Homo sapiens: one gene and its partners. The protein of the gene in region 3 purifies or fractionates together with the protein of the main gene of each other region. This does not show direct contact. Each region holds a gene or a part of one and is shown on either strand. Other genes may lie near its edges.

Region 1 (3,658 bases), on a different chromosome or scaffold from region 3:
GATGTACTTCATGCTTAGTACTTTTTCAAAGTGTAAAGTCATGCATTTCACCCTCTTCTTCTTTCTCCAACACCTTACAGGGCTTGCCAAATGAGAGTTGGAAAATATCCAAAATAAACAGTAATTATGAGTTCTGTGACACCTACCCTGCCATCATTGTTGTGCCAACTAGTGTAAAAGATGATGACCTTTCAAAAGTGGCAGCTTTTCGAGCAAAAGGCAGAGTCCCTGTAAGTAATAAACATTGTCATTTATATAGGAATATATATTGCGTTAGATCTAATATGGAGAGATTTAAGACAAAAAAGAAACTAGTGAACAAAAATGGAAAGCAGAAAAATAAGCTTATAAACCTGAACATACCTTTGATTCTCAACAAATACCTAATTATATAAACAATCTGTTTGCTATGACTCCCTCTTTTACGATTTCCTATAACTAAGTATAAGGGGAACTTCAGTCATACCCTCAAAAAGTAGTAGAGAATGACAAAGGAGTAGCAACAACAAGTTATCATGCTATTGTATTACCAGTTGGCATTGCTGGTTTCACTGAATCATCCTAGAGAAAATGCTTCTTTCTTAGATACTGAGCATGATGCCATAGCTGCGTGGGAGGGACATCATTACAGAAGTAGTAGCAGACAGCTGGGAGTAATGGTTTGAGCCCAGAGTTTGCATCTGTTGTAATCCTGAGTCACTTGGCCACTGGAGGAAAATGAGAGGTGGGGTGGCAGAGTGTCAGATTTTATAAGAGACTGTATATTCACTTTGTCCTTACCCTGCCACGTATATTATTGTTGAGATACAAAGATGTTTTTAAAATTAGGAGACAAGGTAAAATTAGTCAATCAAATTGGAATGGGGCTAGATTTTAGTAATAGTTTGATTTAGGATTTGTTTTTCTTAGAATCATAGAATATTGGGGATGGAAGGGGATTTTTAGAGCTCATGTAGTCAGAATTGTTTCATCCTGACCAAAACATTGAGTCTGATGGCCACTACAATGCTGTGATTGGCCTGCCCACTCTCACTTTTGAAGAAAATATGTATAAGAGACCGTGCTTGAGAAGGGAACTTGTTTTTCCTACCAGGTAATTAGAGCATACATTCTTTAGGAACTGTACTAATATTTATTGCTTAAAAACACTAGGTGTTGTCATGGATTCATCCGGAAAGTCAAGCAACGATTACCCGTTGCAGCCAGCCACTTGTGGGTCCCAATGATAAGCGCTGCAAAGAGGATGAAAAATACTTGCAAACAATAATGGATGCTAACGCACAGTCACACAAGCTTATCATCTTTGATGCTCGACAAAACAGTGTCGCTGATACCAACAAGGTATATTCTTAATAGCACTGCAGAAACACTGGATATTTTCATGTCCTGTCTGTAAATCATTATGCAGTTGGAATAACTCATTGATTTCCTCACCACCTGAAGTTAGAATCATTTGGAGTCCCATAGCTATTCCTCCCTGGTGTATGCTCCTTGGGCTGTGTTTGGTGTCTCACATGGGTTGGGATCTTGTCTGTTTCATTGCTTCTCTACAATATCCTGTCTGCTAAATCAATTAAGTAAAGACCTAGAAAGACAATTATCATCTAAAGGATTTAGCATTTTAATGAAATGATCGTGAGGTCCTTGGAAGTCCGTTTAAGGAATATAGTGGTTAGTTGATTAATTCATGTCTGGTCTGAATTTCTTTTAGAATGGAATCAGCCATGTGAAATGTGTAAATGTACAAAGTTTCCATAAATCTCATGGAGCACCTGTGTAGTGTACCTCGGGTGGCAGTGAGACATGGTTAAAAACACCTCCGTTCCCATGACTTTCATGATATCACACCCTGAGTTTCTCTCGCTCTTCAGCCTGGCCTTCTCCATCTCCTTCACTGATTTCTCTTCCCAGTCTTCAAATGGCATTGCTCCTCGAACTTGGTCTGGGGTCCTCTTTGCTCTACACAGACTCCTGGGGCCATCTCTGATGACACGGCTTTAAACACTGTCTGTATGCTGAGTTCAACTTGAGCTTGACACTGCAGTTTCTCTCCTGTCCTGATCCCTCCTAAGGTTGAGACTGGATTTCTATCCCATTGTATGGTTGACATCTCTGCTTGGCTGTTTCCCAGACCACAAACCCTCCGTATATTCCAACTGGCCTGAGAGGCACGATGGCAAGTTGGTGAGACCCCTTGGCTTTGGAATCAGTTACACCTGGGTTTTCCTCCAGGTTCTGCCACTTGGTGCTCTAGAATCCTGAGCCGGTTACTTAACCTCTCTCTGTGCCTCAGGTTCCTCTTCTGTAAAACAGGAGATAATATCAGTGTCTCATGTCATGGGTTGTGTGAGGATTAAAATTCAGTGAGAAGAATGCATGTAAATGACTTAGCACAGTGGTGAGTGCATCCTCAGGGCACAGTACATGATGCTGATAAGCTCGCCACCCCTGTGGTCAAGGGTGTTGCCCAGGTGTCTGACTTGAGGGTGAATAGTGGTGTCTGTTACTGAGATGGGGAAGACTGGGAGAGGAACAGGGCAGGGAGGAAGATGGGGAAGTATTAGTTTTCTGAGGCTGTCATACAAATTACTACCAATTTGTTGGCTTACAGCACCAGAAATGTATTGATCACAATTCTGGAGGCCAATTCTGCTCCCTCTAAAGGTTCAAGGGGAGAATCTGTTCCTTGCCTCTTCCAGCATGGGGTGGCTGCCCCAGCCTTCCTGGGCTTGCAGCCACATCACTCCAATCTCTTCTTCCGTCATCACATGACCCTCTCTTGCTCTGGGTTTCTGCGTCTCCTCCTTTCTCTTCTAATGACACTTGTGATGACATTTAGGTTCCACCTGAAATAATCCTGGATCCTTAAACACATCTGCAAAGACCCTCTTTTCAATTAATCTTGGAATCCTTAAACACATCTGCAAATCTCAGGATCCTTAAACATCTGCAAAGACCTTCTCTTCAAATAAGGTCACATTCACCATTGCCAGGGATTCGATGTGGATGTCTTTGGCGGGGCCACTTTTCAGCCTACCATAGGGAGGCATCCCTCAGTGAGGCCCCCTTGCTCCCCACATCTGGATCATTAGCTGTGTCAGTCTTTCTACATCTCTGCCTCCCACCTGTCACCACCATATCCCAAGGAATTACAAAATGTGAGAAAAGCCATATTGGTGGAGGCCATCTTCAGACTAGCCAACAGGGTGAGGGCAGTTCATTGTGTTTTATCCCATGCAGGAGAGATAGAGACAGGACACTAAATTGTATATCTAGAATAATTTTAACTATGGCAGTATATGTGTCTAGGAAACAGTATTTTCTAGGTCTCCACTGGTTCTTTATATATAAGATTATGTCATATGCAAGTCGAGATAATGTGACTTCTTCCTTTACAATCTGGCTGCCTTTCATATCTTCTTCTTGCATTGGTATTGCATTGGTTGATTTTTATATGTTGAACCACTGTCGTGGATTGAAAAATGTCTCCCAAAAGTTTGTCCAACTGGAACCTCAGAATGTGACCTTATTTAGAAATAGGATCTTTGCAGATGTATTAATTATGATGAAGCCATCTTGGAGTAGGGTTGGCCCTAAATCCAGTGCCTAGTGTCCGTATAAGAAAGCCATGTAGAGACACAGGCACACACAGAAGGAA
Region 2 (2,336 bases), on a different chromosome or scaffold from region 3:
CCACGCAGGTTCAGGACCTGCCTGTGGCCAGCCTGAAGCCTGGAGCCTTGGCTGCTGACCTGCTCCTGGATGGCCTGGACTTCGGCTTCCACCTTGCGTTCCCGCTCATCCAGGGACGTGTTGGCAGCCAAGAAGGCATCAGAGTACTGGCTGACAGAGTCACTGAGGCCTGTGAGCGACTTGCTCACTGAGTTCAGATTGACCTTGAGCAGAGTGATCTCGCCTTGAAGTGAGCTGCCCGTCCCTTCTGCCAGCTGTCCCTGGACCTCGGCCACAGTGCCATTGAGCTGCTGGAGCAGTGCTGCGTGGCTGGCCACCTGGCGTAGGAGGGCCTCGCTCCGGCTCTGCCAGGCCTTCACCTCTGCCACGAGGCTGTCCAGGATGGCTGAGGTGGTGCTCGGGGTGCACGAAGTCTCCAGTGAGACCAACCGTTGCTCTAGCACAGCCAGCTCTGTCTGTACAAGGGGCCGAGCTGACCTGCCCGGAGAGGCGCTGTCATGGCTTAGCTCCCCAGCCAATGTTGCTAGGCGCTCCTCGAGGCTCTGCACGCGCTCTTCCAGCATGGTCCCAAAGCCGCCCACTCCCCACCCCCCCATGTCCAACCTCAGACAGCATCCCCTTGCTCCACCCTCTGTCCCATTGAGCGTCTCCAGACCCTCAAGCAGCCCGTCCACACCTCCCTCGAGCATGGCAGCAGAGAGCCTCGTAAGCTCATCCCCGGCCGGGGCACCGGGGCCCCTTTGGGTCTCGGTGACTGCCTGCAGGGCCCTCTCAAGGCCATCCATACGGGCATTGATCAAGGCTAGTTGCCCACAGCAGCTGCCCCTGCCAGACACGCTCAGGCCCTGCAGCTGGCTGCCCAGCTGTGACAGCTCCTGGCGCAGGGCCAGCTCCCGGCCATCAAGGCTCTGGTGCAGCCTCCGGCTGGCGGCCTGACCCTCCTCACATTGCCGCCGTACCTCCTGCACCCGCAGGTCACACTCACTCTGGACGCCTTGCAGCTTCTGCTCAAAGCCATCCAGCAGGCTCCCCCAGAGTCGGTGCAGCCGTCGGTCCACGTACTCCTCCAGCAGGGCCAGGGAGGTGAGCGGGGATGGTGGGGCTTCCCGCAGCCGCTGCAGGTGGGCCTCATGGCCAAGTGCCAGCCCATGCACCTTGTCTAGAAGCTGCACCTTGGTCTGAAGAGTGTTGCTCACCTCTGTCACCTTGCTTAGGATCTCGTCTAAGGGAGGTGTTAGTGGCCCTCTGGCTCTGTCTCCTGGGCCCACAAGCCCCTCAGGGATGACCCCAAAGCCCACAGGGACAGCAGGAGCCCTGGGGCCACCAGTCATCCTGTTGGGATCCTCGTGGCTAGCCACCAGGCCACTGAGGGTACCATATGTTTGAGCCAGGCGCTGGACATCACCCTCCAGGCGTTCCAGCCGCTCACCAAACAGCCCTGGGCCTTTCCTTCCTGGGAAAGAGAAGAGAGCCCCAGGGGCATCACTGGCCTCACCCTCTCAGCTTGTCACAATGCCAGGCCACCCAAGAGACTTTCTGTTCTTTTTTTTTTTTTTTGAGACAGAGTCTTGCTCAGTCGCCCAGGCTGGAGTGCAGTGGTGTGCTCTTGGCTCACTGCAAGCTCCGCCTTCCGGGTTCATGCCATTCTCCTGCCTCAGCCTCCCAAGCAGCTGGGACTACAGGCACCCACCACCACGCCCGGCTATTTTTTTTCTATCTTTAGTAGAGATGGGGTTTCACGATGTTAGCCAGGATGGTCTCGATCTCCTAACCTCGTGATCCACCCGCCTCGGCCTCCCAAAGTGCTGGGATTACAGGCATGAGCCACCGCGCCCAGCCCAGACTTTCTGTTCTAAGCCTACCTTCTCACTGGGCATAACTCCCTCAGCTTTATGGTGGGGTGAAAGTGGGGCTTGGGGCTTGCCCCTCCCCATCCATGCCGGAGCTCAGCCAGCCTGGGATCAGTCCCCTCCCTGCCCCTGCCACTGAGCCCAAGAAACCCAATCACCTTGGAGGGTCTCCTTGGGCAGACTCACCATGAGGGCTGGGGGCTGCTCTGCTGTAGGAAGGGGGCCTGGGGCCTGGGTCCAGCTGCCCTGAAGGAATCTGAGGCTCAGGCTCCAGCTGGGGTGAGGCAGCCCCATGGTCCGTGAGGTGCTCAGGGCAGCGTTTCCCAGTGAAGCCGGGACAGCAACGCCAGGCGAGGTCTGTCACTGTCTTGTAGCCAACCTTGTATTTGGGTCTGAGTACTGTGCGGTACCTGGGCCAGGGAGGGCAAGAGAGTGGGATCCTGCACCTGAGGGCTGTGCTTCTCCCCCTAGCTGGCACTCAGGGCC
Region 3 (3,542 bases):
ATGCCCAGGTGATTTGCACACAGGTAAAGCCTGAAAAGCCTGCCTCAGAGGATGTGAAAGCTCTCGTTTAGTTCAGTGTGGTCCTCGGGAAAGCTCTTCTGCTCACCGCAAGTTGGCTGGTTTCCAAAGCTGTGCGTGCCAGCTTGGATCTCCTGGGGCTGATATACCACATTCTCCCCTCCTCCCATCTCTATCCCACAGTGCAGCGACATTTCTCCCTTCAGTCCAAACTTCATGATTCCTCCCTGTTTTCCTCCCAGGGCACTGGTGACTCATTTACAGTCTTCCCTCCTGGCAGGCTCTCTGGCTCACCCCTGGGTTATTCACTCTGCCTCAGTAATTCTGAAACTGTCAGAGTCTGAGGACCACTTTTTACCACCAAAAACTGCTGCAGAGCCTTGCGTTTTGTTACTTTTAGTATTCATAAATTGAGAAGCTTCCATAAATTTAGGTCCATCTGTGGGTTAGAGAACCCCCTCCAACAACTCCGTGACTCCCAGGGTCTTAGGCTGGTTGATTGAGAAATGACAGCCTTGAAGGGGTCCATTCTGTTCATTTTTTTCCCACCCACAGGCCGCCCTCCTTCTGTCATCTGTGAAATGACATCTGAGAGGAAGCAGGGGTTCCTTACGTTCTAAAGAGGTGATTATAAACCCAGATCAAAGTCCCCTTTATCCAGAAAGCATTCCCAGATGGACTTTATCCCATTCTGCATTAATCTTTCTATCTACTCGACATGCGCAGATCAGGATGTGAGCTTCATACCACGAATGTAGTATGTGTATGTGCTTGTCCTTTCTTCATGTTTCTCCTGAGAGCCTTACAAACAATGTGACACACACACACACACAACCTATATATACACACATGTATTATATACACACACATATGTGTATATATAATATATATGATGTGTATATGTATCCATGGGTGTTTGTTATGACTATTGTCATAGTCATAACATAGTCATAGTGCAAATCCTGCAAAATTTTCTCTCCTTTCCGAGGACTTCTCATTCTCTCCCATCCTGACATAGGCTCCTTACCTGGCTCATAGTCCAACTCAAAGCATAGTTTTTCTGTAAAGAAAATAAACCAGGATGAGATTTTATTAGTCTTACAAAACCATCAGACACTTAATGATGAGAAAACTGAGGCCAAGAAGAGGGAAGGGACAAGAAGAAGAATGTAAGCTGGAATCCTCTAGACCAGTGGTTCCAAGCTTGCATCAGAATCATCTGGAGCTCTTGTTAAAACACATCTGTTTCAGATTCAGGTGCTCTGGGGTGGAGCTGAACATCTGTATTTCTAACAATTTCCTGGGCAATGCAGCTGCTGCTGCTGGTGGGAGCCCCACTGCCCTAGCCCTGATCAAACAGGGACCATGACTGCCTTGCTCACCTCTGTACCCGCAGAGCCCAGGACATAGTAAATGCTCAAGAAATATCTGCTTAGTGAATAGAGAAATGGGTTCATTTATTTATTATTCCACTTGGAAATAATTTTGGGGAGAGTCAAAGGTCAGCCTTTGATTAGAGTGAAATTTCCTTCACTGACAGGTCACTGGAAGTATTTGCAGGAAATGGAATTATGGGAAAAGTCCTTCTAGGGTGACATAACTGTGGGTGGGTCATTTCAAAATTGGTGTCATCATTCATTCTGTCATGGTTAGTGAGGAGGTGGTTGGCAGAGAGCCATGTCCCATTCCTGACTCTCATCCAAACCCTCCCCCACACCCTACCACCACTCCCTGTTCCGGAAAAGGAAGTGGAGCACAGTCCCCGTAGGACCGTCTAACTCTGAGCCAGACTAACAGAAAGAAAGTGAGAAGGAAGGAGGGACGAGCCAGATACCACAGGGTCAAGATAAATACTGTTGTTGGCTATTAATTAACAATGTTCATCATCAAAAACTTATCACATATTACAAATGTTGCTGTGGGATTTTTTAACTTATTAAGAATGATATATTGTTAATCATTATCTTTCATATTGCTTAATGACCACTAATCAGATTTGTTGAATTATTTTAAAATCAGTTTAACTTTTTCACCAGAAATATTCACCTTTATTCTCTTTCTTCATTGTCACAATATCCTAATAGGCAGATTTTATAAAAATCTGCAAATAAGGAAATCAAGGCACAGGAAGGAATAAGGCTTGCCAAAGTCACACCTTTCAGCAGTGGAGCGTGGAGGCCACTCCTAAACCCAGGCTTCATGGCCACCTGCGCTCTGTGGAGGCCTGGGGTTCTCTTACCCAGAAACATCTTCATCTCCCTCTGCAGCGGGAGGGCCTGCTGGGGAAAGTCCCGAATCCTCTGGCCCAGCTCTGGCGACACAGCCACCGGTTTCCGGCACTTTCTGGTTTCACATCTAGGGGCACAGAAATGGCTGGGTCTGGGAATTATCATCCTTAATAATGTCTCCAGACTCAGCTGGTCATCTTCTAATAGGGCATGATGGCGCTAGTTCCTGCAGGCAGACGTACTTCCTCTAGGATGAATCCCACTGCCCATTTTTGGGCATCTATGGATATACCTGAGAAGGCATTTGGGTATATAGAGGTTTATATGTAAATTTGTATCCTTAAGTGAGAATGTTATATACCTGTGTGGCAATAACTAGGCATGCAGTACATGTATGTATATTTATATGGAAAAAGAAAAGAGAGAAACTATATTGCTTACCTTATTAGAGTGCTTCTGATGTCCTAGGAGAAAGAGATACCAGAAATTCAGTTTCCAGCTTCTCCTTTCCATTTTTCTTTCCTTTCTTTTTCTACTTTTATTTTATTTATTTTTTATTTGCTTGTTTGTTTGTTTGAGAAAGGGTCTCACTCTGGTGCCCAGGCTGGAATACAGTGGCGTGATCATGGCTCACTGCATACTCAACCTCCTGGGCTCAAGGGATCCTCCTACCTCAGCATCTTGAGTAGCTGGGACTACAGGTGTTTGTCACCATGCCTGGCTAATTTTCTTTTTTTTTTTTTTTTTTTTTTTGTAGAGATGGGGTTTTGTTATGTTGCCCAGGCTCCTCCCACTTTTCTTATGACTGGAAAAGACAAAATATATTTCTAGCCCTGGACAGGAAAAGGATACCAGATGCATAGAGTCACAGAGCATTAGGACTCACCCATCTCTGTGGATCAGAGCCCAAAGCCTTTATTTTTTAGATAAAGATGGTGAAGTGACCTTCCCCTGCTCACTGGAGGCAAAGTAAGTCTCATACCAAGGTCTCCTGTTTCTCAGTCCTAAGAGCATCATTCTAAGTCATGCTGCCTTTCCAATACTTTGTGGGGACCCCAATACCTCTCCTCCAGTGTGAGGAAGTGAAATAGACCAGGACAAACTTCCTGACTGGTGGTTGGTGACATTTAGGTTATAGAGAATGGTTTGCAACTTACTTAATACTTTTTCAAAGTGCTACTTTCACTTCCATCTTACTGTTGGATCCTCACAAAAGCCCTGTGAAATATTTAAGGAAAGTATCTTCCCTATTTGGCAGATGGTGGGACGGAGAGGTGGAGACCAGAGAGCAAAAAG

What was found.
Region 1: the proteins of TRIM10 (region 3) and MTMR1 purify together in Homo sapiens (affinity purification with mass spectrometry; 3 studies listed by BioGRID and IntAct, with this or other methods). This does not show direct contact.
Region 2: the proteins of TRIM10 (region 3) and EMILIN3 purify together in Homo sapiens (affinity purification with mass spectrometry; 3 studies listed by BioGRID and IntAct, with this or other methods). This does not show direct contact.

The regions. Positions count from the first base shown.
Region 1 is NC_000023.11:150,731,390-150,735,047, forward strand, and holds part of MTMR1 (phosphatidylinositol-3-phosphate phosphatase MTMR1), read left to right. Parts: intron 1-80; coding exon 81-230; intron 231-1,152; coding exon 1,153-1,341; intron 1,342-3,658. UniProt on the Homo sapiens protein: Lipid phosphatase that specifically dephosphorylates the D-3 position of phosphatidylinositol 3-phosphate, generating phosphatidylinositol. Could also dephosphorylate phosphatidylinositol 3,5-bisphosphate to produce phosphatidylinositol 5-phosphate.
Region 2 is NC_000020.11:41,361,602-41,363,937, forward strand, and holds part of EMILIN3 (EMILIN-3 precursor), read right to left. Parts: intron 2,261-2,336; coding exon 2,037-2,260; intron 1,454-2,036; coding exon 1-1,453.
Region 3 is NC_000006.12:30,154,682-30,158,223, forward strand, and holds part of TRIM10 (tripartite motif-containing protein 10), read right to left. Parts: intron 2,711-3,542; coding exon 2,688-2,710; intron 2,374-2,687; coding exon 2,258-2,373; intron 1,079-2,257; coding exon 1,046-1,078; intron 1-1,045. UniProt on the Homo sapiens protein: E3 ligase that plays an essential role in the differentiation and survival of terminal erythroid cells. May directly bind to PTEN and promote its ubiquitination, resulting in its proteasomal degradation and activation of hypertrophic signaling.